Homo sapiens: one gene and its partners. The protein of the gene in region 7 purifies or fractionates together with the protein of the main gene of each other region. This does not show direct contact. Each region holds a gene or a part of one and is shown on either strand. Other genes may lie near its edges. The genes, in order: TUBGCP6, DNAAF5, QRICH1, ASPSCR1, NPLOC4, VCF1 and UBXN6.

Evidence for each region.
Region 1: the proteins of UBXN6 (region 7) and TUBGCP6 purify together in Homo sapiens (affinity purification with mass spectrometry; one large-scale study listed by BioGRID and IntAct). This does not show direct contact.
Region 2: the proteins of UBXN6 (region 7) and DNAAF5 purify together in Homo sapiens (affinity purification with mass spectrometry; one large-scale study listed by BioGRID and IntAct). This does not show direct contact.
Region 3: the proteins of UBXN6 (region 7) and QRICH1 purify together in Homo sapiens (affinity purification with mass spectrometry; 2 studies listed by BioGRID and IntAct, with this or other methods). This does not show direct contact.
Region 4: the proteins of UBXN6 (region 7) and ASPSCR1 purify together in Homo sapiens (affinity purification with mass spectrometry; 6 studies listed by BioGRID and IntAct, with this or other methods). This does not show direct contact.
Region 5: the proteins of UBXN6 (region 7) and NPLOC4 purify together in Homo sapiens (affinity purification with western blotting; 3 studies listed by BioGRID and IntAct, with this or other methods). This does not show direct contact.
Region 6: the proteins of UBXN6 (region 7) and VCF1 purify together in Homo sapiens (affinity purification with mass spectrometry; 3 studies listed by BioGRID and IntAct, with this or other methods). This does not show direct contact.

The regions. Positions count from the first base shown.
Region 1 is NC_000022.11:50,224,524-50,228,023, reverse strand, and holds part of TUBGCP6 (gamma-tubulin complex component 6), read left to right. Parts: coding exon 1-117; intron 118-946; coding exon 947-1,025; intron 1,026-1,181; coding exon 1,182-1,291; intron 1,292-1,645; coding exon 1,646-1,737; intron 1,738-1,834; coding exon 1,835-1,974; intron 1,975-2,080; coding exon 2,081-2,230; intron 2,231-3,431; coding exon 3,432-3,500. UniProt on the Homo sapiens protein: Component of the gamma-tubulin ring complex (gTuRC) which mediates microtubule nucleation.
Region 2 is NC_000007.14:733,199-736,698, forward strand, and holds part of DNAAF5 (dynein axonemal assembly factor 5), read left to right. Parts: intron 1-3,500. UniProt on the Homo sapiens protein: Cytoplasmic protein involved in the delivery of the dynein machinery to the motile cilium.
Region 3 is NC_000003.12:49,042,072-49,045,571, reverse strand, and holds part of QRICH1 (transcriptional regulator QRICH1), read left to right. Parts: intron 1-1,067; coding exon 1,068-1,182; intron 1,183-3,500. UniProt on the Homo sapiens protein: Transcriptional regulator that acts as a mediator of the integrated stress response (ISR) through transcriptional control of protein homeostasis under conditions of ER stress.
Region 4 is NC_000017.11:81,976,164-81,980,428, forward strand, and holds the start of ASPSCR1 (tether containing UBX domain for GLUT4), read left to right. Parts: upstream 1-1,465; 5' UTR 1,466-1,483; coding exon 1,484-1,585; intron 1,586-3,020; coding exon 3,021-3,076; intron 3,077-4,265. UniProt on the Homo sapiens protein: Tethering protein that sequesters GLUT4-containing vesicles in the cytoplasm in the absence of insulin. Modulates the amount of GLUT4 that is available at the cell surface. Enhances VCP methylation catalyzed by VCPKMT.
Region 5 is NC_000017.11:81,606,113-81,609,612, reverse strand, and holds part of NPLOC4 (nuclear protein localization protein 4 homolog), read left to right. Parts: intron 1-790; coding exon 791-885; intron 886-2,798; coding exon 2,799-2,922; intron 2,923-3,500. UniProt on the Homo sapiens protein: The ternary complex containing UFD1, VCP and NPLOC4 binds ubiquitinated proteins and is necessary for the export of misfolded proteins from the ER to the cytoplasm, where they are degraded by the proteasome.
Region 6 is NC_000017.11:73,222,395-73,225,894, reverse strand, and holds part of VCF1 (protein VCF1), read left to right. Parts: intron 1-3,500.
Region 7 is NC_000019.10:4,447,795-4,451,294, forward strand, and holds part of UBXN6 (UBX domain-containing protein 6), read right to left. Parts: intron 3,037-3,500; exon of another isoform or gene 622-3,036; coding exon 524-621; exon of another isoform or gene 1-523. UniProt on the Homo sapiens protein: May negatively regulate the ATPase activity of VCP, an ATP-driven segregase that associates with different cofactors to control a wide variety of cellular processes.

The DNA of each region.
Region 1 (3,500 bases), on a different chromosome or scaffold from region 7:
CACCAGTGGCCTGAGGAGGTACCTGCAGTATTACCGGGCCTGCGTCCTTTCCACTCCGCCCACCCTGAGCCTCCTCACCATTGGTTTTCTCTTCAAGAAACTTGGCCGGCAGCTCAGGTGAGCCTCAGCATGGCGGCTGAGCAGGGGACTTTGCGGGAGCGGTGTGGGGCTTGCTGGGTGGTGGAGGGTTTGCCCTGCTCCCTGGCAAGGAGGGCCTGTGAGAACAGCCCTCAGCAGGCGACCGGATGGCCCTTGGCCGGCCGAGTTCACCAGGTGCCCGGTGCTGAGCGGGTGTGTCTGCCGTGGGCCCACCACAGCTGGCCCCATCCAGGCCCTCCAGGTCCGGTGGCTCCTGCCTAATTGGCACACAGGGTCCCTGGAGATGTGGCGTCCGGTACACACAAGCTGGTTAGTGAGCAACCAGGCTCGGGGGCTATTGGCAGGTGCCATCAGAGAAGGAAGAGTGAGGAGCTGGGCATTGGGAGCAGTGGGAGAGGCGACCTTCCAGGCTGAGGAGCAGAGTGTGGCAGCGCTGAGGAGACCCAAGGGCTGAGACACTGTGGGGCAGGGGAGCTGGGCTGTGAAGGGTGCGAGTTGTGGCAGATGCTTGGTACCACTGTGTGGATGGGAGGGGCTCTCAGGTGCAGCCCCCAGAAGTGGGAGGATCAGGGTGATTCGTGTGTTGGCCAGATCCTGGGAGGGAGGGCCTGCTGGGTGTGGGTACTTCAGTGGGGTGTGTGTGGACAGCGCAGGGGCACAGGGCTGCACACGAGTCCTGCAGGGAGCCCGTTTCTGGGTGGTTGGGGTGCCTGTGGTTTTTAAAGCCTGCATCTAAAGTTAGTTGCCCCAGGGAGCATAAAGATACGTGGAGACTTTGCTCACGATCTGATCCAGGCCTGGGAACCCTGAGCCCGGTCACCTGGTCTCATCCTGCCTCTGGGTCTAGGTACCTGGCCGAGCTCTGTGGCGTTGGCGCTGTGCTCCCGGGCACCTGTGGAGGAGGCCCCAGGGCCGCGTTTCCCACCGTGAGTTGTGCGTCCCTGCCGAGTGTGTCAGCCTGGTGGGCTCCAGGAAACGGGGGTGGCTGAGCGTGTCCCTGGAGGGCTGCTGCCGGCAGGGCTGCGCCTCACTCCCAGCGCTGGGTGCGCTGAGCTGCCCCCCACCCCCTTTGCGGTCTGCAGGGCGTGAAGCTGCTGTCCTACCTCTACCAGGAGGCTCTGCACAACTGCAGCAACGAGCACTACCCTGTACTGCTGTCCCTGCTGAAGACCAGCTGCGAGCCCTACACCCGGTGGGCAGTGGGCTGGGCAGGCGCGGCGGGCGCGCACTCCCACCAGGCAGACACTTGAGAGCGGTCCCTTGTCAGACACCTGCTGAATGTGGGGGTCACACAGGAAGGGGAGGGCAGGATAGGTGGACTGGGCAGGAGCCCCCAACCCCCCACCCTGCCCCCACTCCACACCCCCCACCCTGCCCCCACTCCATCCCGCCCCTCATGGATGGCCACACCCCACTCCACCTCTCACAGCTACGCCCCCACTTGCCCCTCACTGACAGCCACGCCCCTGTCCCACCCCTCACTGACAGCCACGCCCCACCCACCTCTCCGTTGACCACATCTACCCCTGCTTTTCCCCCACTGCAGGTTCATCCACGACTGGGTGTACAGCGGGGTGTTCAGAGACGCTTATGGCGAGTTCATGATTCAGGTGAACCACGAGTACCTCAGCTTCCGAGGTAGGTGGCAGCTGATTGCGGGGCAGGGGTCCGTGCCTGTGGGCCTGGGTTCAGGGCCATGGCCATGCCGGCCACCGTGGTGTTCACCCTACCTTAGATAAGTTGTACTGGACACATGGCTACGTGCTCATCTCCAAAGAGGTGGAGGACTGTGTTCCCGTGTTTCTGAAGCACATTGCCCACGACATATACGTCTGCGGAAAGACCATTAACCTGCTGAAGCTCTGCTGCCCCCGGGTGAGGAGGGGCTCATGTGTGGGGAAGAGAGGGGCCGGTCTTCCCTGGGGCTGAGTATGAGGCTGGGGCTGAGTGCTGGTGGCTGTGCTTGCATCCCCTTTGGCAGCATTACCTCTGTTGGTCCGACGTCCCTGTCCCCCGGATCTCGGTGATTTTCTCCCTTGAGGAGTTGAAGGAGATTGAGAAGGACTGTGCCGTCTACGTTGGGCGCATGGAGAGGGTGGCCCGCCACAGCTCTGTCAGCAAGGAGGAGAAGGTGCGTGGCACCACAGGTCTCGGGGGCTTTCTTCGCCCCTGCCTCTGCTTCCTGGGGTCTCAGGTTGGTGGGGCGGACATGAGGGCTGTGCAAGATGGGGGCCTCCCTTCTGGCATTTTCTGTCCTGGCGGTGGCCTGGGTGGGTGCCAAGGGGGAGTTGAGATGAAGGGTGGGTGTCAACGGGGAGTTGAGATGAAGGGTGGGTGCCAAGGGGGAGCTGAGATGAATGTCCGGAGCCAGATGCCAGGCAGGGGCTCTGACTTCTCCTCCTGGGTCTGGGTGGCTCAGCCTGAAGCCCAGGCTTTGCTGGCGTGGGAAACTCCGTTGGGGCCTCCCCGGGCCCGCCAGCTGTGGACAGACAGTCCTGGCTGCACTCCAGATGGCCTTCGCCCTTTGCAAGCCCCCTTCCTGCTGGGAAGGGACAGTGTGTCAGGGACGGGCCACGCCTCTCCTGTGTCTTCTGGGAGGGGCTCGGTGGTACAATCAGTGCCATTCCCAGGAACACCCTTTCTGGCCTGGTGCCTGGTGGGCAGCAGGGATACTTGGGCAGGGGCAGGCCTAAGAGGCTGAGCGGGGAAGCCCCCTCTTGAGGCCTCTTGGTTTCCTTCCAGGGTGGGCACACACAGCCTTGGGGTCCTCAGCCCCAGATGTCTCTGTGAGAGCCGGTCAGCTCCCGTCCATGGCCTGGAACCAGCCTTGCCACTGCTGAGAGCCTGGGGGTGGGGGAGGGTGGGCGGGGGGGCGGTGTCCTGCCATCACCTGGTCCCTCCTCGAACCCTTGGACCATGTGTCTCCCCTGCCGGCCCTGAGTCCACAGGTGTCCTGGGCATCCTAGGTGAGGGGTCAGAGGATTAGGTTGCTTTTTTTTTCTTTGAGACAGGGTCTCACTGTGTCAGCCAGGAGGCTGGAGTGCAGCGGCTCGAACATGGCTCACTGCAGCCTCCACCTCCCAGGCTCAAGGGATCCTCCTGCCTAAGCTCCCCTGACCCCCGCCAAATAGTTGATACTACAGGCACCTGCCACTACACCTGGCTAATTTTTGTATTTTTAGTAGGGATGGGTTTTTGCTATGTTGTCCAGGCTGGTCTTGAACTCTTAAGCTCATGTGATCTACCCACCTCGGCCTCCCAAAGTGCCAGGATTACAGGCGTGAGCCACTGCGCCCGGCCAGGATGCTTTGATTACCAGTTGTCTTTCTCAGGAATTACGTATGGAAATTGCAAAACAAGAATTAATCGCTCATGCCCGGGAAGCAGCATCCAGGGTCCTG
Region 2 (3,500 bases), on a different chromosome or scaffold from region 7:
GAAGTCAGGTAATGTGATCCCTCCAGTTTTTTGTTTGTTTTTGTCTTGTTTTGTTTTTTGCTCAGGATGGCTTTGGCTATTCAACGTCTTTCGAGGTTCCATATAAATTTAGGATTATTTTTTCTATTTCTGTGAAGAATGTCATTGGTATTTTGATAGGGATTGCGTTGAGTCTGTAAATTGCTTTGGGTAGTATGGACATTTTGGGTAGTATGGACAATATTGATTCTTCCAGTCCATGGAGTATGTTACCATTTTTTGTGTGTGTCCTCTTCAGTTTTCTCATGTCAGTGGTTTATAGTTTTCTTTCTTTTTTTTGAGACAGTCTCGCTCTGTCATCCAGGGTGGAGTGCAGTGGTGCGATCTCTGCTTACTGCAAGCTCCGCCTCCCAGGTTCACGCCATTCTCCTTCCTCAGCCTCCCGAGTAGCTGGGACTACAGGTGCCTGCCACCGCACCTGGCTAATTTTTTGTGTTTTTAGTAGAGACAGTTTCACCATGTTAGCCAGGATGGTCTCAATCTCCTGACTTCGTGATCCGACTGCCTCAGCCTCCCAAAGTGCTGGGATTACAGGTGTGAGCCACTGCGCCTGGCCTTATAGTTTTCATTGTAGAGATCTTTCACTTCTTTGGTTAAGTTAATTCCTAGGTATCTTATTTTGTTTGTAGCTATTGTAAATGGAATTACTTTCTTGATTTCTTTTTCAGATTTGTTAACTGTTGGCATGTAGAAATGCTACTGGGGCTTTTTTGGTGATTTTGTATCCTGCAACTTTACTGAATTTGTTTATCTGTTCTAATAGGTTTTTTGTGGAATCTTTAGGTTTTTCCAAATGTAAGATTATATCATCTGCAAACAAGAATAATTATCTTCCTTTTCAATTTGGATTCCCTTTATTTTTCTTGTCTAATTGTTCTAGCTAGAGCTTCCAGTACTGTGTTAACTAACAGTGGTGAAAGCGAGCATCCTTGTCTTGCTCCAGATTTAGAAGAAAGGCTTTCAATTTTTCCCCATTCAGTGTGGTACTAGCTGTGAGTCTTGTATATGGCTTTTATTGTACTGAGGTGTGTTCCTTCTATACCCAGTTTTTTGAAGATTTTTATCATGTAGGGATGTTGAATTTTATCAATACTTTTCAGCATCACTTGAAATAATCACGTAGTTCTTGTCCTTCATTCTGCCGATATGATGTGTCACATTGATGGATTTGTGTATGTTGAGCCATCCTTGCATTCCTGGAATAAATCTCACTTGGTCATGACAAATGATCTTTCTCATGTGCTGTTGAAACAGTGGAAACTTTGCGTCAGTGTTCATCAGGGATATTGTCCTGTAGTTTTCCTTTTCGATTGCATCTGGCTGGTTCTGGTATCAGGGTAGTACTGGCCTCATAAATTAAGTTTGGAGGTATTCCTTCCTCTTCTAGTTCTTGGAATAGTTTGAGTAGGAGTGACATTAGTTCTTTAAACGTTTGATAACATTTGGCAGTGAAATATTGCGACCCGGGCTTTTCTTTGCTCAGTGGCTTTTCATTGCGGCTTCAATATCATTACTTGTTACTGGTCTGTTCAAGGTTTGGATTTATGATTTAATCTGTGTAGGTCATATGTGTCTAGGAATTTATCCATTTCTTCTAGGTTTTCCAATTTATTGGCATATAGTTGCTCACAGTATAGTTGCTCACAGTGTAGCTGCTCACGGTGTTGCTCACAGTGTCGTTGCTCATATTGTAGTTGCTCATATTGTTGCTCATAGTGTTGTTCTTCATGGTATAGCTGCTCACAGTGTCGCTGCTCACGATGTCATTGCTCACGGTGTAGTTCATGGTGTAGCTGCTCACGGTGTAGCTGCTCACAGTGTCGTTGCTCATATTGTAGTTGCTCATACTGTTGCTCATGGTGTTCTTCATGGTGTAGCTGCTCACAGTGTCGCCACTCACGATGTCATTGCTCACGGTGTAGTTCATGGTGTAGCTGCTCATGGTGTAGCTGCTCACGGTGTAGCTGCTCACGGTGTCATTGCTTATATTGTAGTTGCTCATACCGTTGCTCGTGGTGTTGTTCTTCATGGTGTAGCTGCTCACAGTGTCGCCGCTCACGATGTCATTGCTCACGGTGTAGTTCATGGTGTAGCTGCTCACGGTGTAGCTGCTCATGGTGTCGTTGCTCATATTGTAGTTGCTCATATTGCTCATGGTGTTGTTCTTCATGGTGTAGCTGCTTACAACGTCGCTGCTCACGGTGTAGTTGTTCATGGTGTAGCTGCTCCCGGTGTAGCTGCTCATGGTGTCGTTGCTCATATTGTAGTTGCTGATATTGTTGCTCACGGTTTTCTTCATGGTGTAGCTGCTCACAGTGTCGCTGCTCACGATGTCATTGCTCACAGTGTAGTTGCTCACAGTCTCTAATGATGCTTTGAATTTCTGTAGTATCAGTTGTTTGTAATGTCCTCTTCGATCTCTGATTTTATTTACTTGGGTCTTCTCTTTTTCTTAGTCTGGTTAAAGGTGTGTTGATTTTGCTTGTCCAAAAATCTAACTGTTCATTTTGTTGGTCTTTTGTATTTTTTTTAATTTCAATTTCATTTATTTCTGCTCTTATTTCTTGTCTTCTACTAATTTTGGGTTTGGTTTGCTCTTGCTTTCCTAGTTCTTTACGATGCAGTGTTAGGTTGCTGTTTGAAGTTATCTGCTCTTTGAATGTAGGTGCTAATTGCTATACACTTGCCTCTTAGTGCTGCTTTTGCTGTTTTTGCATATTGTGTTTCCATTTTCATTTAAGAATTTTTAAAATTTCCTTCTTAATTTCTTCATTGACCCACCGGTCATTCAGGAGCATATTATTTAATTTCCATGTATTTGTGTAGTTTCCAAAGTTCTTGTTATTAATTTCTAGTTTCATGTTTTAAGGCTTGTTTCGTGGCCTAACATATGGTCTGTCCTTGAAAATGATCTGTGTGCTGAGGAGAAGAATGTGTATTCTGTAGCTGTTGGATGCAATGTTCTATAAATACCTATGAGGTCCATTAGATCTATAGTACAGATTAAGTCTGATGTTTCTTTGTTGATTTTCTCTCTGGATGATTTGTCCAGTACTGGAAGTGGGGCATTGAAGCCTCTAGCTGTTACTGTGTTGGAGTCTGTCTCTCTCTTTAGCTCTAGTAATATTTGGTTTATATATCTGGATACTCCAGTGTTGGGTGCATATATATTTAAAGTTGTTATATCCTCTTGCTGAGTTGACCCCTTTATCATTATATGATGACCTTTGTCTCTTAGTATAGTTTTCGTCTTGAAATCTGTTTTGTCTTAAGTGTAGCTATTCCTGCTCTTTCTTGCTTTCCATTTGTATGGAATATCTTTTTTCGCATCCCTTTATTTTCAGCCTACGTGTGCCTTTTTAGTGACGTGTATTTCTTGTAGGCAACAGATTGCTGGGTCCTGTTTTTCTTTACCCATTCAGCCGCTCTGTCTTTTGAATGGAGAGTTTAGTCTGGTTACG
Region 3 (3,500 bases), on a different chromosome or scaffold from region 7:
GTAGTCCCAGCTATTTGGGAGGCTGAGGCAGGAGGATCCCTTGAGCTCAGGAGTGCGAGGCTGCATTCAGCTATGATTGTGCCATCACACTTCAATCTGGTCTACAAAGCAAGACCTTGCCTCTTAAAAAATAAATACATAAAATAAATAATAAAATAGGAAAACAAACATTATTCATCCTACTACCTAAACTTCTATTACATTATTGGTAATTACCTTGACTTTTTTTTTTTTTTTTTTTTTTTGTAATTCACAAAGCATTTATGTAACACTTTTCTTTTTGTTAAACCTGATTTTCATGAAGGTAATTTATTCAAAACAGAGTCTTGTGCCAGCATAGAGGTTTTCTTCTCATTGTTCCCTGCACTAACTACTTATTTGAAGGAGTCTAGCTAGAATAATATACCAATGTAGTTAGGTTTTCAGGACATCTGTGGTGAAGCATAACAGAAATTTGCAGACTGGCAGTTCAAGGGAGCAGAGGTGGATTTCTTAGTGTTTGAAGGCTCTTGAGGAGAAACCCACAGTATAATAGAATAGGGCTTACTGGTTGGGACTTATTCTGTTGCCTAGTCTTGAGAAATGTCTGCCTCCTAGTTTTTTCCTCTCTTGGTGGTCCTAACCTAAGTACTATGTGAATTGCTTTACATGCTTTCATTCTTTGCTCTCCCAGTCCTGGAAGGCAGATACCATCATCTCCATTTACAGGCAAGGAAACTGAGTCTCAGAAATTAAAAGACTTGCACATGTTGTTTAACTTATACAATATCTAATGGAAGGCTGACCCCAGAGCCTATTCATGATTTTTGCTAACACAAAATAATGCCTTTCTTGGGTGAAATAGCATTCACAACATCTGCCTTATTTACCCAACTCTCAAGAATGTCATGAGAATCAGTCACATGAGCTTAGGCATACTATGGAAGTGTCACATGCTGGTGCCTTGGTTTGTTGAGGTGTGAATGGGTAGGGAAGGATAGTAGTACTGGTAGAAAAATATATTTATTTCCCCTGAAATCCTTGTTCAGGAGACTACCAATAACTTCTATTAATTGTTTTTCTTTTAGTATCTTTTTGAAAATGGAAGGGTAGATGACATTTTCTCCGATCTTTATTATGTTCGGTTCACGGAGTGGCTACATGAAGTTCTGAAGGATGTTCAGCCCCGGGTCACTCCACTTGGTAAGAGTCTCCCTTGTCCTTGGATATCTTTCCTACCTGGATTTAAGAAAGATCAATAGCTTCTGTGGTTGGCTATGAAAAGCATGTGAGTGAGGGGGGATATAAATCCCAGACTGCAGCAGCATTGGCCACTGTGCTACTTGCCCTGATAGGGAAGAGGCACTGCTCACCAGAGAAGCCTGCTGGTTCCAGTGTGGGAAGGACACAGGAACAAGCAGAACTAGTGGGGTAGTTACTATCTTTTTTTTCCTATTAAAATGTATTGATTAAAATTAGAATCATAACAATTAAGGATTATGGACAGTTTTATCTGTAGAGCATAATTTTTGCTTTACTCACAGGCAGCCTTCTGGACAGCATGTTCTATTGGAACAAAAGCATAGGTTATTCAGTGTTTTTCTTTGTTTGTTCTTAAAAAAACATGGTCTTGGTATGTTGCTGAGATGGGCCTCAAACTCCTGAACTCAAGCGATCCTCCTACCTCAGCCTCCTGAGTAGCTGGAGCTATAGGCATGCGCTACTGTGCTCAGCTATTTTTGTTTTGTTTTGTTTTGTTTGAAACGGAGTCTCACTCTATAGCCCAGGGTGGAGTGCAGTGGCACGATCTTGGCTCACTGCAGCCTCCGCCTCCCAGGTCCCAATTCAGGCAATTCTCCTACCTCAGCCTCCTGAGCAGCTGGGATTACAGGCATGTGCCATCATGCCCTGCTAATTTTTGTATTTTTAGTAGAGACAGGCTTTTGCCACATTGGCCAGGCTGGTCTCAAACTCCTGACTTTGTGATCTGCCCACCTCGGCCTCCCAAAGTGCTGGGATTACAGGCGTGAGCCACCACCGTGCCTGGCCTATTTTTGTTTTTAATAGACTTTTTTTTTTTTTTTTTTTTTTTTTTTGAGACAGAGTTTTGCTCTTGTTGCCCAGGCTGGAGTGCAATGGTGTGATCTTGGCTCACTGCAGCATCCACCTCCCAGATTCAAGTGATTCTCCTATCCCAGCCTCCCAAGTAGCTGGGATTACAGGAGCATGCCACCACGCCTGGCTAATTTTTGTATTTTTACTAGAGACAGGGTTTCATCATATTGGTCATGGTGGTCTCGAACTCCTGACCTCAGGTGATCCGCCCACCTCGGCCTCCCAAATGCTGGGATTACAGGCATGAGCCACCACGGCCAGCCAATAGACTTTATGTTTTAGAGTACTTTTAGGTTTCCAGAAAAATTTAGCAGTAAGTACAGAGAATTTCCATATAACTCCTTAAGTATATACCCTCACACACAGTTTCTCCTATCAATAACATGTTGCGTTAGTATGGTACATTTGTTATAATTGATAAACCAATATTGATACATTATTGTTAACTATAGTTCATAGTGCTATGAACTATATTATTGTGTTGTACGTTCTGGTTTACATTCTGTATCTGTTGTACATTCTGAGTTTTGATGAATGTATGATGACATGTGTCACCATCATGGTGTCATATAGAATGTTTACTGCCCTAAAAAATACCTCTTCTGGGCCAGGCATGGTGGCTCACACCTGTAATCCCAGCACTTTGGGAGGCAGAGATGGGCTGATCACTGAATATTGGGAGTTCAAGACCAGCCTGGCTAACATGGTGAAACCCCATCTCTACTAAAAATACAAAAATTAGCCAGGTGTGTTGGCAGGTACCTGTAATCCCAGCTACACGGGAGGCTGAGGTAGGAGAATCGCTTGAACCAGGGAGTCGGAGGTTGTGGTGAGCCAAGATTGCGCCACTGCATTCCAGCCTGGTGACAGAGCGCGACTCCGTCTCAAAAAAAAAAACAAACCTTTTCACCTGTTTATCCCTCCCTCCCCCAGATACCCTGAAAACCACTGATGTTTTTACTATCTTCACAGTTTTGCCTTTTCCAGAATGTCATATAGTTGGAATAATTCGGCATGTGGCCTTTTCAGATTTGTTCCTTTCATTTAGCAATATGCCTTTAAGATTCCTGTGTGTCTTTGGCTGGGTGCAGTGGTTCATGCCTATAATTCCAGCACTTTGGGAGGCCGAGGCATGTGGATCACAAGGTCGGGAGATCGAGACCATCCTGGCTAACACGGTGAAACCCCGTCTCTACTAAAAAATACAAAAAAATTAGCCGGTTGTGGTGGTGGGTGCCTGCAGTCCCAGCTACTCGGGAGGCTGAGGCAGGAGAATGGCATGAACCTGGGAGGCAGAGCTTGCAGTGAGCTGAGATCGTGCCACTGCACTCCAGCCTGGGCGACAAGAGCAAGAGTCTGCCCCGTGCCACCCCCGCCCCCCCGCCCAAAAAAAAAAAAAAACACAG
Region 4 (4,265 bases), on a different chromosome or scaffold from region 7:
GGTTCAACTTCACGTCCTCACTCATGGCCACGCTGATGTCCTGCACCTCCTGCTGACTTGTCACCTCCCTTCATCATTGCCCCAAACGTTTAACCAAGGATCCAGACTGTGGGACAGTCTAAGGAAAATAGGAACAGACTCTTCAAAAACGCCACTAAAGAATTAAAACCCACCAGGTGATGTGTGGCTCAGTAAGGTTCTGAGGTTGCACAGAGCATGGGACTGGCTGGCTGGATGGGAGGGCTATGGCTAGCCTGGGGCTTTCCCCAGGTTTCTCCAATGTACATAGATGTCCGTGTTTGTCAGCATACAGGTGTGTGTGGGTGACATGGATATGTCATCGACAGGAAGGCACAACAGCACCCATGCAGAGATGTCCTTAGACTCAGCAATGACTGCCGGGTGCGGTGGCTCACGTGTGTAATCCCAGCCCTGTGGGAGGATTGACTGATAACTGCACCAGTTCCCCCTTCCACAGGCTACTGGGCAGCTGAGCCCTAGCCAGGAGTCCGCAGAGACAGGCAGGCACATGGAGAGAGGAGTGCCAAGGCCCGGCTGAGCCATGGAGGTGGGGGGCGGGGCGGAACACGTGCGAGTGCTGTCCATGAGTGGCCCAGGTGCTGGGAGCTAAGCACATTCGACGGCTGCGAGTCAGGAGGGCAGCTCCTTCTGGAAGCCTGGAGCTGGTGAGGCCAGGTGCTTTCCCTGCTGCGGTGGCTGGCGATGGGAGTGTTTCCTGAGGCTGCCACCAAGCCCCTCCTCAGCATGGGTTGGTGCGGGAAGTCCTTGAGTGCCTGTGGGTCGGCAGGAGCTCCGGTGAGACTCAAGTTCGCTCACCCCACGGTTCTGAAACCGGTCTCCCGCCTTTCCTACCCTCAGGTTTAGGGACCGTCGCGGCAGCCCTAGGGCTGCCAGATTCTGCACTCCCATTTTAGGATGAAAGAAATCAGGTCTAGACTGAGGGCCACGAGTCCCAACACCCAGGGAGGATCCGTACAGGGGCGGGGGGACTGCCCCAAACCATAAGGTCAGGAGGTGGACGCTGACCACAGGGACAGGTGGGCAGGGAAGAGGCTCAGCTGCTGGAGTGGAGGAAGCCGGGAGGGTCGGGGGAGAGCAGGGCACCGAGCTGGGGACGTGTCAGGGACGAAGCGAGGGTGGGCGAGCGCGGACCGCTGGGACCCCGGGGCTCAGTGCCGCTCACCGGGGGTGACCGCGCGCCCAGCCCCGGCCCAGCCTGGCCCCGGCGAGCCCATCCAAGCCGCGCTTCCCGGAGGCAGAGGACGACCGCGCTTTCCGGGTCTGGCGCGGGCTTTGGCGGCCCAAGGGCGGGGCCGGGGCGCCGTGGGTGGGGAAAGGGCGGGGCCTGGCAGGACCCGGAAGTGCGCTGCGGCCCCGCCCCCTGGCCGCGTGGCTGCGCGTCCTGGCTGTTGCCGATAAAGTTGTTTGACGCCGGCCCGGCGGCGGGTCACGTGAGCGGAAAATGGCGGCCCCGGCAGGCGGCGGAGGCTCCGCGGTGTCGGTGCTGGCCCCGAACGGCCGGCGCCACACGGTGAAGGTGACGCCGAGCACCGTGCTGCTTCAGGTGCGGCCGCCCGCCCGGGGCGGACGGGTAGGCGGGCGGGGGGCGCTGCGCCGAGGCCCCGCCCATTGCGGTCGGCGTCCCGGTGTTCGGGGGCGGGGCCTCGGCGGCCAATGAGCGGCCTCCTGAGCGGCGGCCCCGCCCCCTGCTCGCCGTCACCTGCGCTTCCGCTGGGGTCCCGGGGGTCCCGGGGGTCCCGAGTGGGGGCGGGGCGGTGGCGAGCCTTCCCAGGGGTGAGGTAGAACGGCGCCGCGTGTCACCCGCATCGAGTACTCGGCGCCCGGCCGAGCCCAGCTCGCGAGGGCGCCGGGAAGAGGGAGGAGTGGAGCCCTAGACCCGCGTTCCCATTCCGGGGCGTCCCCCGGAGCGGGAGCCCGGGTTGCGCGGTGGCAGATGTCCCGGCCGTGGGGCCTGGAAGCGATTTTTGCCGAGTCACTCACTGCACTTTTACTTGGGCACCTTGTGACCGCGAATCAATTAAATGTAAAAGTATTGGCTGGGCGCGGTGGCTCACGCCTGTAAATCCCAGCACTGTGGGATGCCGAGGCGGGTGGATCACGAGGTCAAGAGATCAAGACCATCCTGGCTAAAACGGTGAAACCCCGTCTGTACTAAAAAAATACAAAAAAATTTAGCCGGGCGTGGTGGCGGGCGCCTGTAGTCCCAGCTACTCGGGAGGCTGAGGCAGGAGAATGGCGTGAACCTGGGAGGCAGAGCTTGCAGTGAGCCGAGATCGCGCTACTGCACTCCAGCCTGGGAGACAGAGCGAGACTCCATATCAAAAAAAAAAAAAAAAAGTATTTATTGAGCCTCTGCTGCGTGGGGGACCGTGAGGATCCGAAGGTGCACACGACTCGGAGTTTGCGGGAGCAGCCCACGGCGTGGGGTCCCCAGGCCTGGGCAGGTGGAGGGCGCAGCCAGGAGGCTGTTGGTGCCAGGCGTGCAGAGTGCGGAAGTGGGGCGCTCCCGCAGAGGCTGCGCGGGACCCCTTGGTGCAAGGCCACGGCTTTGGCTTTTTATGGAGAAGAGGGGCGGAGGCGGTGCAGGCAGTGGCAGCAGGTGCACAGAACCGTGCCAGAGCCAGGGGGTAGCTTGTGCTAGGCAAGTTTAAGGCAGGTTGCAGAACTACAGGGTTTGAAGGAGAGCCCAGGGTGTGTGCCAGGAAGATGCCCGTGTTGCTGTACTGCAGGGGAACTCTGAGTGGAGCTTTCCTACAAAACTGAGGGGATGGTGAAGAAGGGAGGGAGAGTGGACAGGATTTGCAGGTGAGAGCCTGCATTTGTTGCGGGGACCGTCCATAGTGTGGTCTTGTGCTTGGCTTTGCCTGGGCAGAGCCACCTGGCTCACCAGGAAGCTGAATGCCCTTGGCTGACCTGGCCCACTGCGCCCGCCAGCCCTGCACACTCAGCAGTTCACCATCCTTTCATCTCACCCCCAGGTTCTGGAGGACACGTGCCGGCGGCAGGACTTCAACCCCTGTGAATATGATCTGAAGTGAGTTTGCTCCAGCTCAGCAGCAGGGTCTGAGTATATCTGTGCCCCTGCCCCCTGAACATACTGGCTCTCACTTGGAAAAGCCCCCAGGTGGTTTTAAACAGTCATATATTCCCTCCCAACTCTGGAGACCCAAGGCCTTGGCAGGGCCACACTCTCTCCAAATGCCCTAAGGGAGAATCCCTCCTGCCTCTTCCAGCTTCTCATGGCTCCAAGCGTTCTGTGGCTTGTGGCCGCATTGCTCTCTGCCTCCGATTTCTTGTGGCCTTTTCCTGTTTTCTCTGTGTCTCAGGAAGACCCTTGTCATTGGATTTAGGGTCCACTTGGATAATCTAGAACGATTTATCATTACATCTTCAAAGACCAGGATCCCTAGTAAGATGTTCAGAGGTCCTGGGGGTGAGGACATTGACCCATCTTTTTTGGGGGGGCCACCATTCAACCCCCTGTAGGTTTTATTGCATTGAGTTGCATAAGTTCCCAGTGGGGCTCTGAGGGGAAAGAGCTGGCCGTGGAGAAATAGGATGCCTTGAAAACTGCAGGTGGATCCCTGCAGTCTCACAGCCCCTGGAATTACACGTACGCTTCTGTGTGGGGATATTGTTCCCAAGAGAGGGCTTCTGCCAGACTCTCAAGGAGTCTGAGACAGCAGAAGGGTCAGAGCCCTCATATGGATAGGATGTGCGTGTCTATCCCACACGCGAAGCTTTTCACTTTAAAGTCCTGTTTTCTGGTGTTTTTTTTGTTTTGTTTTGTTTTTGAGACAGGGTTTCACTCTTGTCGCCCAGGCTGGAGTGCAGTGGCACGGTCTTGGCTCACTGCAACCTCCACCTCCTAGGTTCAAGTGATTCTCCTGCCTCAGCCTCCCGAGTAGCTGAGATTAGAGGTGCTCACCAACACACCCAGCTAATTTTTATATTTTTAGTAGAGATGGGGTTTCACCACATTGGCCAGGACGGTCTAGAACTCCTGACCTTGTGATCCGCCTGCCTTGGCCTCCCAAAGTACTGGGATTACAGAGATGAGTCACCATGCCTGCCCTTGAAGACCTGTTTTTACAGTACTGTTGTCCTAACACTGGGGGCAGAGGGCAGGAGCTTGCCCTCCTGGCATTGCCCACCCTGCCTTACGAGGCTCTCCTGGGAGGAGTTTCTTAGGGGTGATACCTGCCAAGTCATTCCAGTCTTCT
Region 5 (3,500 bases), on a different chromosome or scaffold from region 7:
TGCTTCTGGCTATGTGCAGTGACGCCTGTAGTCCCGACACTTTGGGAGGCCAGGGCCAGAGGATCATTTGAGCCTAGGAATTGTTCAGCCTGGGCAACTCTTTTTTTGTATACCCTGTCTCTACAAAAAATTTAAAAAATTAGCTGGGTGTGGTGGTTCACGCCTGTAGTCCCAGCTACTCAGGAAGCTGAGGCAAGAGAATCACTTGAGGTCGAGGCTGCAGTGAGCCATGATTGCACCACCATACTCCAACCTGGGCAACAGCATGAGACCCCATCTCTAAAACAGTTAAATTGGCCAGACTCAGTGGCTCACGCCTGTAAAGCTAACACTTTGGGAGGCCAAGGCGGGTGGATCATGAGGTCAGGAGTTTGAGACCAGCCTGGCCAATATGCTGAAACCCCGTCTCCACTAAAAATACAAAAATAAGCTGGGCGTGGTGGCGTGCACCTGTAGTCCTAGCTACTTGGGAGGCAGAGGCAGAAGAGTTGCTTGAACCCAGAGGTGGAGGTTGTAGTGAGCAGAGACTGTGCCACTGTGCCACTGCACTCCAGCCTGGGCGACAGAGTGAGACTCCGTCTCAAAACAAACAAACAAAAAACAATTAATTAAAAAAAGAAAAACTTGGTTCTGACTCAGAGTGGTAAGGGAGACCCTAGTACCTGCTTTCACTGTGGGCCTTGACTTGCCAAGGCCATGCTGCTGGCCTCCCCCTGTGCGTAGCAGAGGCTCAGCGCCTGGAGTGACCGGCACGTGTGAGACTGCACTCGCTTACTCTGTGTCTTGGCAGCCATTCGATGAGGACTATCTAAACCATCTCGAGCCTCCCGTGAAGCACATGTCCTTCCACGCCTACATCCGGAAGCTGACTGGAGGGGCTGACAAGTAAGCAACTTGCTGTAACCTGGTTGTGCGTAAATTCCTTTTTGTGTAGCTGGCAGTTGTTGCTTATAGCCAGTGAACGTGTGAATGAGAGAAGTAAAGATGAGAAGGGGTCACACGCCTTTGAAAGTTACCGTGGTTCTATATTTATTTATTTATTTTTTATGTACTCATATATGTTTTTAAGAGATGGGGTCTCACTATGTTGCCCAGGCTGGTCTAGAACTCCTTGGCTCAAGTGATCCTCCTGCCTTGGTTTCCCCAAAGTGCTGGATTACAGGTGTGAGCCACCTCGCCTGGCCAACCTGGTTCTAGAAGGGAGCTAGCAAGGCAGAGCGACTGTGCAGGCGCCTGGCTGCGTGGCCACAGTGCAGTATCAGACAGAGGCTGTCCCCACACACACCACCCCAGCAAGTTAGCATCTGTGATGGTGGCCTGTTGATTCTGTGGTCTGAGTTCATTCTCTGCTTTTCAGAAAAACAACTACCCTGTGAGAATCTCAGCTTCCCCACCTCAGTGCCTGGTAACCCTTTCCCCAGAGCCTGGCCTCTGAGTCAGCTTGGTTTTCAGCCACAGCAGGGGCTGCAGCCACTAATCCTCATGGTACCACAGTAGTTGCCCACAGGCTCAGCCAGGTGGGCAGAGGTGGTAACAGTGGCCAGAAAGGGGTGAACTGAGCATTTTGATTTCTTTTAAGCCATGGCAAGCCCTTGCCTGTATGACCTTCTCCTGTTGGCTCTCTGTACACCCTACCAGAAAGTAGCAGGCTTCAGCTATTATTTTATAATTCCTGTCAGTGCAACGAGGAGATGGTGGCTGAACTGAAGTCAGCAACATTTTGTGAAGGATGTCATATTCGCCTGATTGTAGCTTTTCTCTGACAACCTGCTGACATCCTAAAATGACTTTTTAAAAATGTTAGACCAGAAGAAAAAACCTGCTAGAAACCCACTGTTGCTTGTCAGTGGGGAAAGCTGTGGAACTCTCTGGACTAAGGAGTGGGTGCAGATTGATTGTAGTGAAAGAGACTTGGTCAGCCTTTCTCAGTCTAGGTCAAGGAACACAGTCTCTAGTGGGGGCGTGTTTGTGGCTGCTGTTAGCATGCAGATTCAGTGACGAGTCTTTGCTTCCTAGATGCTATGATACCAAAAATGGCTCACCACCAAAAATGATCAGTATGTGAGGTAATGCATATGTTAATTAGCTCAATTTAGCCGTTCCACAGTGTGGACATGTTTCAGAATATCATTTCGTACACTGTAAATATATCGTTTTTATTTGAAAAACAAAACCTCACGTCTACCTTAAAGATACAGATTTCTTTTTTTTTTTTTTTTGTCAGTTATATTTCAATAAAGCTGGAGAAAAAGAAAAAGTTCAGAGTAGGGTCCAGGATTTTCTCATTGACAGTCTTCAACAGTAGTTTTTATTTTAGCCTAAAGCAGAGTAAAGATGCCTTAATTATATATCCTAATCAGATTTTTCCCATGAATAAGAATTTTTTACAAATATCTAAGTACTGGGCTAATGTCAAAGTTTCTGACAATTTAATGAAACCTGTAGGAGCCTCATGCCCGCTCAGTGGCACAGGTGAGATCAGTAGATATTCTACAGTATTCTTGAAAGCTTTCTCGGATGTTAGTGATAGATGGTAAAAAACACCACAGTTTGGTAGGAAAGTAGTTGTGTGTTCCTGTATGGTTGAAGTATGTGGGACAGAAGCTGGGATTCGGAATGTGCTGGAACTGTAGGTAGAGCTTCCATTAGAATCATCCTTAGCCCATCTTCCCTGCTGCTGCCACGTGCTTAGCTCCTGAGACACTGTTCAGGAGGTATAAGATACTTAGCATGTCATTTCCAGCCTCTTGCTCAACTTTTCACCAATGTGATGTTTAAGTTGCTTCTCTTCTATGTAGGGGGAAGTTTGTTGCCCTGGAGAACATCAGCTGCAAGATTAAGTCAGGGTGCGAGGGGCACCTCCCGTGGCCGAATGGCATCTGTACTAAGTGCCAGCCGAGCGCCATCACGCTGAACAGACAGGTGAGATGTTCCCTGTCTGTCTAGATTTGTTTTCATGGCTGAGAAACGGATATTTCCAGAAGAGCCCCTTGGAGTGGAATGCTATTAGCACTATGCGTGGTGGATTTTCAGTACTTTTTGATGGACTGAATGATCCTTTTGTGGAAGTGGTACACTGAATATATCATTTTTAAGGCTTCTTGCTCTTGGAGATATGGAGTGCGCGCCCTCAGTTCTCTGTTTTGCTGGCTCATATGGAGGCAGAATGTTCCTGATGATTATTTAAAATCCTCAGTGGTTGTGAGGAAACTGGCTCTGAAGGTTGGTAAAGGGGCACCCCTTGGACCAGCTCTGAGCACCTGTCCAGGCTGGCTTAAGGAGAGAATGTGGCTCAGGAAGGAGGGAGCGTTCCGGCCTTTCTGGATGTTCTGCTGTCCTTGTCCCGCCTCTGAGTAGCCTGCCTCGCCTTCCTCCTGCCGCTGTGCCCTTAGAGAAAACGGCTCCTTAGAGAGAATTCCGTGGCCTCCTCGACTTTTTTGGAAACCTCCTATTCTCTATTCCTTTTTTCTTCTTGAAAACTACTTTATTTTGGCCGGGCA
Region 6 (3,500 bases), on a different chromosome or scaffold from region 7:
ATATATATATATTATATATATATATATTTTTTTCCTATTTGCTTTTTTCTTTTCTTTTTAAAAAATGATTATCAGAAAGGTAATTGAGCTTTGTTTAATGTAATAGTTGGGAATCTCAGGGATGAAAGAAAACAAGATTAGAGGCTACCATGAATATCTAATGATAAAACCCTGTAATAGTAATTGAGTTTCCATTCTTTTGAATTGTAAGACTATTCATTAAAAGAGTATGCAAAGATTACTTCTATGGTGTTGGCCATCAGTATTTCCTTACTTGTGTCTGTATGTAAGTCCTGCTATATGATGTTCATTTCAGTCAAGGGTATGGTAGGTCTAACTCTCTGTATTAACGTTTTTTTCCCGTATCTGCCAGTTTTGAAGCCTGAGAACAGCAATAGAAATTGCCATCTTTTTCTTGCTTTTGTCTCTTGGTTAAAAAAAAAGAAAGAAATTGTCATCCTTTTTTAAAAAAATTAACATTTCTGATCTCTTAAGTAAGGCAGATATTGTAGATTTTTAAATTTTATTTATTTATTTATTTAGTTTTTGGTACAAAATGACCTTTACTCTCTTTCTAAAATCCGTGCATTGGTCTCACAGAAGAAAACAACGTCTTGTTACTCAACCTCCTGGGTTCTCTAGCTGAGCTTGTCCTTACTTGTCCAAAGAAATTCAGTTGTTGAGCCACTCCGTAATCATTATCTGAAGGAAGGACTAGATTGTCTTCCTTATCGTTTAAGGTCATTACTGGTAGTTTCTGTCTGAACTCACTGGTAGATCACCTAATGGGGTGTTACAACCATTAGTTTCAGCCTTGCTTACTGAACATTGACCAGAATAGCCTGCTGTGCCGTCCTGTGCTGTCCTGTCCTGTCCTATCCTATGCTGTCCTGTCCTGTCCTGTGCTGTGCTGTGCTGTGCTGTGCTGTGCTGTCCTGTCCTGTGCTGTGCTGTGCTGTGCTGTCCTGTCCTGTCCTGTCCTGTCCTGTCCTGTCCTGTCCTGTCCTGTGCTGTGCTGTCCTGTCCTGTGCTGTCCTGTCCTGTCCTGTCCTGTGCTGTGCTGTGCTGTGCTGCGCTGTGCTTCCTGGCAGTGGTATTAACAAGTAACAAGGACAAGTGAATGATGAGAGAGCCAGAGAAGCAAAAGGCAGAGGGAATATCTTTTAAAATGGAAAGTTAAGCCCCAAATAATGAAGTTTTCACTACTGGAATAAATGATTATGTTTGTAGCAGCAAAAAATCAAGTTTAGGGACATTTGGCTGGTTTTTGATGATTGTGTATAAAAGGGAAAATAAAACAATTCATTTTTAATTATATTAACAATTTAGACAAAATATTTTATTAATAACATTACTAATGAAAATGTTTTCTTTTAATTCTGAGGTAGGGCCATGAGGTCAGTTTCCTTGAAACTTAAGTTATGTAAGAGAAACCATTTCCTATGTTTTCCCTGAATGAATAAGCTTTGTCACCCAGACTGGAGTGCAGTGGTGTGATCTCAGCTCACTGCAACCTCTACCTCCCAGGCTCAAGCAATACTCCTACATCAGCCTCCCAAGTAGCTGGAACTACAGGCACATGCTACCATGCTGGGTTAATTTTTTAAGGTTTTTTTTTTTTTTTTTTTTTTGGAGAGACGACGTCTCACTATATGGCCCAGGCTGGTCGTGAACTCTTGGGCTCAAGCGATCCTCCCACCTCAGCCTCCCCAAAATGCTGGGATTACAGACTTGAGCCACCATGCCTGGCTAGAATTCCCTTCCTTCCTTCCCTCTGTTCTCCCCTCCCCTTCTCTCCCCTACCTTCTCATCCCCTCCCCTCCACTTTCTTCTCTTCCCCTCCTTCCTCTCTTCCTTTCTCCCTCCCTCCCTTCTTCCCTCCCTCCTTTCCTTCCTCCCTTTCTTTCTTTTCTTTCTGGCAGGGGCTCCCTCTGTTGCCCAAGCTGAGTGCAGTGGAATGATCATGGTTCACTGTAGCCTCAACCTCCTGGGCTCAAATGATCCTTCCTCTTCAGCCTCCTGAGGTGCTGGGACTACAGGGATGTGCCACCAAACCTGGCTAATTTTTTTAATTTTTTGTAGAGACAGGGTCTTGCTGTGTTGCCCAGGCTGGTCTTGAACTCCTGGCCTCTGACCCTCCTCCACTGGGCCTGGCCAAATTCTTTTTCTTATTTTCTTTTTTTTGTTAACCTGGCTGTTTAAGAATTCTTTTTCTTATAACTTGAACTTCATGAGGAATTTTTTTTTTAATTCTAAGAGAGATTTAAAAGTTACTTACAATTCATTTCTAAAAGTTAACCTTTTTGCTTAAGTACAATAATAATGGCGAGTACTAGGAAATATGTGAGGTGTTTTATTTATGTTAAACCATTAAATTGTGCCACAAGTAAATCACAACTATCTGTACAGTGGAGATAATAGTATCTGCCTCTTCTTTCCTAGATACTATAAAGCTAAATAATGTGAACTGATTTGCCGGATTAGTTATATAGAGAGAAACTTCATGTGTGCATAAATTAATGTGTGCATAAATGGCTTCTTTCCCCCATTTTATTTTTTTATTGTTTATTGTTTTTTGAGAGGGAGTTTCACTCTTGTTGCCCAGACTGGAGTGCAATGGCGCAATCTCGGCTTGCCATAACCTCTGCCTCCTGGATTCAAGCGATTATCCTGCCTCAGCCTCCCGAGTAGCTGGGATTACAGGCATGTGCCACCACACCCTGCTAATTTTGTATTTTTAGTAAAGGCAAGGTTTCTCCATGTTGGTCAGGCTGGTCTTGAATTCCTGACCTCAGGTGATCTACCTGCCTTGGCCTCCCAAAGTGCTGGGATTCCAGGCGTGAGCTACCGTGCCCAGCCTGTTTTAGTAGGTATTATTATCTCCACTTCTCAGATGGAAAACTTGGCACACAGAAAAATAGTCACTTGTCCAAAGAACACAGCTAGTAAGAGGCAGAGGAGGAACGGAGCCCCAGGGTGTGGTTGTTGGGCTGCACGCTCCTGACCATGGTGTGTGCTCTCCCAGAAGATAGAACAGAGGTTCTGCGAGACTTTGCTAAATATATCCAGGAGCAGCTAGAGCCTAGTCTTCTCTTTTTTTTTCTTTTTTTTTTTTTTTGAGACAGAGTTTCGCTCTGTCACCTAGGCTGGAGTGCAGTGGCATGATCTCAGCTCACTGCAACCTCCACCTCCCAGGTTCAAGTGATTCTCCTGCCTCAGCCTCCTGAGTAGCTGGGATTACAGGCACCCGCCAGCTCGCCCAGCAAATTTTTGTATTTTTAGTAGAAATGGGTTTCACGATGTTGGCCAGGCTGGTCTCAAACTCCTGACCTTAGGTGATCCATCCGCCTTGGCCTTCCAAAGTGCTGGGATTATAGGCGTGAGCCACCGCGCCCAGCCCTAGTTTTGTTTTGAGTCAGGAACAGAGAAGAACAATTTTCCTTCTCTTTTTATCTAGAAGCTGTTTTTTCCAAGTACATGGCATGATATGATCTTAGCTA
Region 7 (3,500 bases):
CTCGGACACCCCATGGAGCCCACCCCTGGTGCCAGCAGGAGCCCCACGGAACCCCTCACCGTCCCACCAGCCCTGGAAGGGCACAATTAACCACAGCGGTGGGGAAGCCACAGTGCCGGAAGAGTGGAGAGCCAGAGCTGAAGGGCCGCAGTGCCAGCAGGGGGCTCCTGCGGGGTGCTCCCTCGGCGTTGGCGGGCAGCGTGGACCTCCAGGCCTGCCCCCGATCCTGAGACCCGGGGAGTGGGGTGGGACCCTGCCTCCTCCACATGTTCCCCAAGGAAGCCAGGGTGGGAAACCCCTGATTCCTTCAACACCTTCATTTTGCACACGGGTAAACTGAGGCCCAAGGAGGCCCAGCCCTTTGCCTGAGGCCTCTGGGTGGAGCTGCCTCACTCTCGGCCTATGCTCCTTCCCAACCCACCTCAGCAGGTAATGAGGGGGCCAGAGGGGGTGACAGCCCCAGTGGGAGGGGTGCTGGGATGAGCTGGAGGGGCCAGGCAGGGCAAAGGGGCCACACGCTCACTTGGCAATGGTGTCCACACCCAGCTTCACCCGGTCCTGGTCTTTGTTGAACGTGTAGATCTTCATGATGGAGGCGGCCACTGGGTCGGTGGAGAAGTGCTGGGAGGAGGGAAGCAGGGAAAGCCACTCACTGAGAGCCCGGGCCGCACGGCCCTCCGCTGCCCAGGTAACAGGGGCAGGAAAAGGAAGGCAGAACAGCGGCTTGGAGCGGCCCCAGCTGTGCGCTCATCACAGAAAGGAAAAGAGAGACCCTCCAAGACCGCAGCCCTGCCCACGCCCCAGGGCAGAGGCGACGCAGCCAAGACCCAGCAGAACTCAAGTCTCCCCTTCCGCCTTCTCAAGGCTAGATCCATGGGACTTGGAAGCCAGTGTGACGCGACAGAACTGTGCCTCACACTCTGGCTTTAGAACTCGACCTCAGTGCTGAGATCCATCAAGGCCACCGCCACTTACAGAACCTCCCGCCACCATGGACGCCCCATCCCTCCTGCTCTCGCAGCCCCATGATGGACGTTCTGGAACCACTCCCGGGCCTCATGTTTACAAAGAGACCGAGAGGCCCATCGTCCAGGGTCACAGGGATGGCAGGTGGCAGAGAGGACACAAATGAGTCTGCAACCCTCAATGTCTGAAACTCAATAGCTGGAAGACGGATACCCCCAGCCCCTGCCCCTCCCCGAGGTCCCACCTATCCACCTATGTTACCGGGGGAGGGGAGAAGTCATAGCTGGAACTCTGGGGGTTTCCCAGAACCAGCCCTGCTGACTGCGAACAGCGTCCCAGCATGGAGAGGCTGAGAACAGTACGTACCCTAAGACCTGGAAAAGATTGGGGCACAAATCCACGCTCGGCACAGCCATCACACACGGCCACACCCAGAGAGCCACCCATGGCCTGGGAAGCAGGGCTGCCACCCGCACCTCCCTGGGCTGCCCAGACGAGGGCGGGTGAACAGAAGGGCAGCCCAGGGCCATGTGTCAGGATTCGGGCCACCTGCCCAGGCAGCCCAGAGCTCCACCCACCACCCCCCACCCTCAACTGCACAGCAGGGTCCCTCAGCAGCCCCCTGCGTCACACGGACCAATGACCTACACACTGAGCCGGGGCTCATGCCAACTGAAAATTGGGACCCGGCCCAGTCTGCCGGTTTAGTTGCTGAGATGATGTGGGGAGCGGGACAGAGCACGTGGATGCAGAGAGGCAGAGCTGCCAGATGGGCATGTCCCCAAGACAACAGCTTCCTTGGGATCAGAGCGCCCGGGACAGCACACCAGCCAAGGGAAGCGTGTCAGCTCCAAAAGCGGGCCTCGGGCGTTTTGGGCGACTGGCTGCCAGGCTTAGGTCAGGAGCTGGGTACATGCACAGACAAGGGACGAAGGAACAGCAGCCAGGAAGGGGTCCAAATCCATACAGGAATGTACTTTGTGAGAAAGGTGGGATTTCACAGCTGTAAGCAAAAGACAGGTGCTCTCGACAGGTGGGGCTGAGAAGAAAGCTGAGCCAAGATCTAAAAAAAAAATTACATCAGCTCCATCCCACCATGTTACATAATAACATGCTCCAGCTGGATCAAAGCTTCAACCATGGAAACAAGCAAGCAGTCAAGGAGAAGCCAGAAGAAAAGCTCTGGAGGCCGGGCACGGTGGCTCATGCCTGGAATCCCAGCACTTTGGGAGGCCGAGGCGGTCGGATCACGAGATTAGGAGAGCGAGACCATCCCGGCCAACATGGTGAAACCTCATCTCTAAAATACAAAAGTTAGCCCGGGTGTGGTGGCGTGCACCTGTAGTCCCAGCTACTTGGGAGGCTGAGGCAGGTGAATTGCTTGAACCCGGGAAGCAGAGGTTGCAGTGAGCTGAGATTGCACCACTGCACTCCAGCCTGGTGACAGCAAGACTCTGTCTCAAAAAAAAAAAAAAAAAAAGCACTGGAGAGGCCACAAAAGAATTCTCTCAGCATGGAAATGGGGAAGGCATTTCTAAGAATGACCCCAAACCCAAAAGCCATGAACTAAAACTGACACATTTAATTATACAGAGATCAAAAAATCCTACACAGCAAAGTGACCATAAGCAGAGCCAACATAGAAGCAACTAGAGGGAAACATGTGCAACTCATATCATAGGCAAAAGCCTAAATTGCCTAATATGTAAAGAGTGCTGCCGGGCACGGTGGCTCCCGCCTGTAATCCCAGCACTTTGGGAGGCCGAGGCGGGCGGATCACGAGGTCAGGAGATCGAGACCATCCTGGCTAACATGGTGAAACCCCGTCTCTACTAAAAATACAAAGAATCAGCTGGGCGTGGTGGCGGTTCGCCTGTGGTCCCAGCTACTCGGGAGGCTGAGGCAGGAGAATGGTGTGAACCTCGTAGGCGGAGCTTGCAGTGAGCAGAGATGGCGCCACTGCACTCCAGCCTGGGCGACAGAGCGAGACTCTGTCTCAAAAAAAAAAAAAAAAAAAAAAAAAAAAGAGTGCCTACAAATCACTAATAAAAAGACAAACTATCTACTAAATAATGTAGAAAGGACGCATTCTCATATGAAACATGGCCAATCCAAAATAAGGAAAGTGCAAATTAACTCTATCCTGAGATGTTATTTTCACCTACCAACAGGCGTAAAGATCAAAGTTTGGTGATTTACAGTATGGTGAGAGGATGGGGACACGGGTGCTTTTGCACACACTGCTGGAGTGGGTGTGAGTCTGGAGAGTCTATGGAACTATTACTATTTTGTTTTGTTTTGTTTTTAAGATGAAGTTTCGCTCTTGTCACCCAGTGTCCACGCTGGAGCTCAATGGCGTGATCTGGGCTCACTGCAACCTCCACCTCCCAGGTTCAAGCGATTCTCCTGCCTCAGTCTCCTGAGTAGCTGGGATTACAGGCGCCTGTCACCACGCCTGGCTAATTTTTGTATATTTAGTAGATAGGGGGTTTCACTATGTTGACCAGGCTGGTCTTGGAACTTCTGACCTCAGG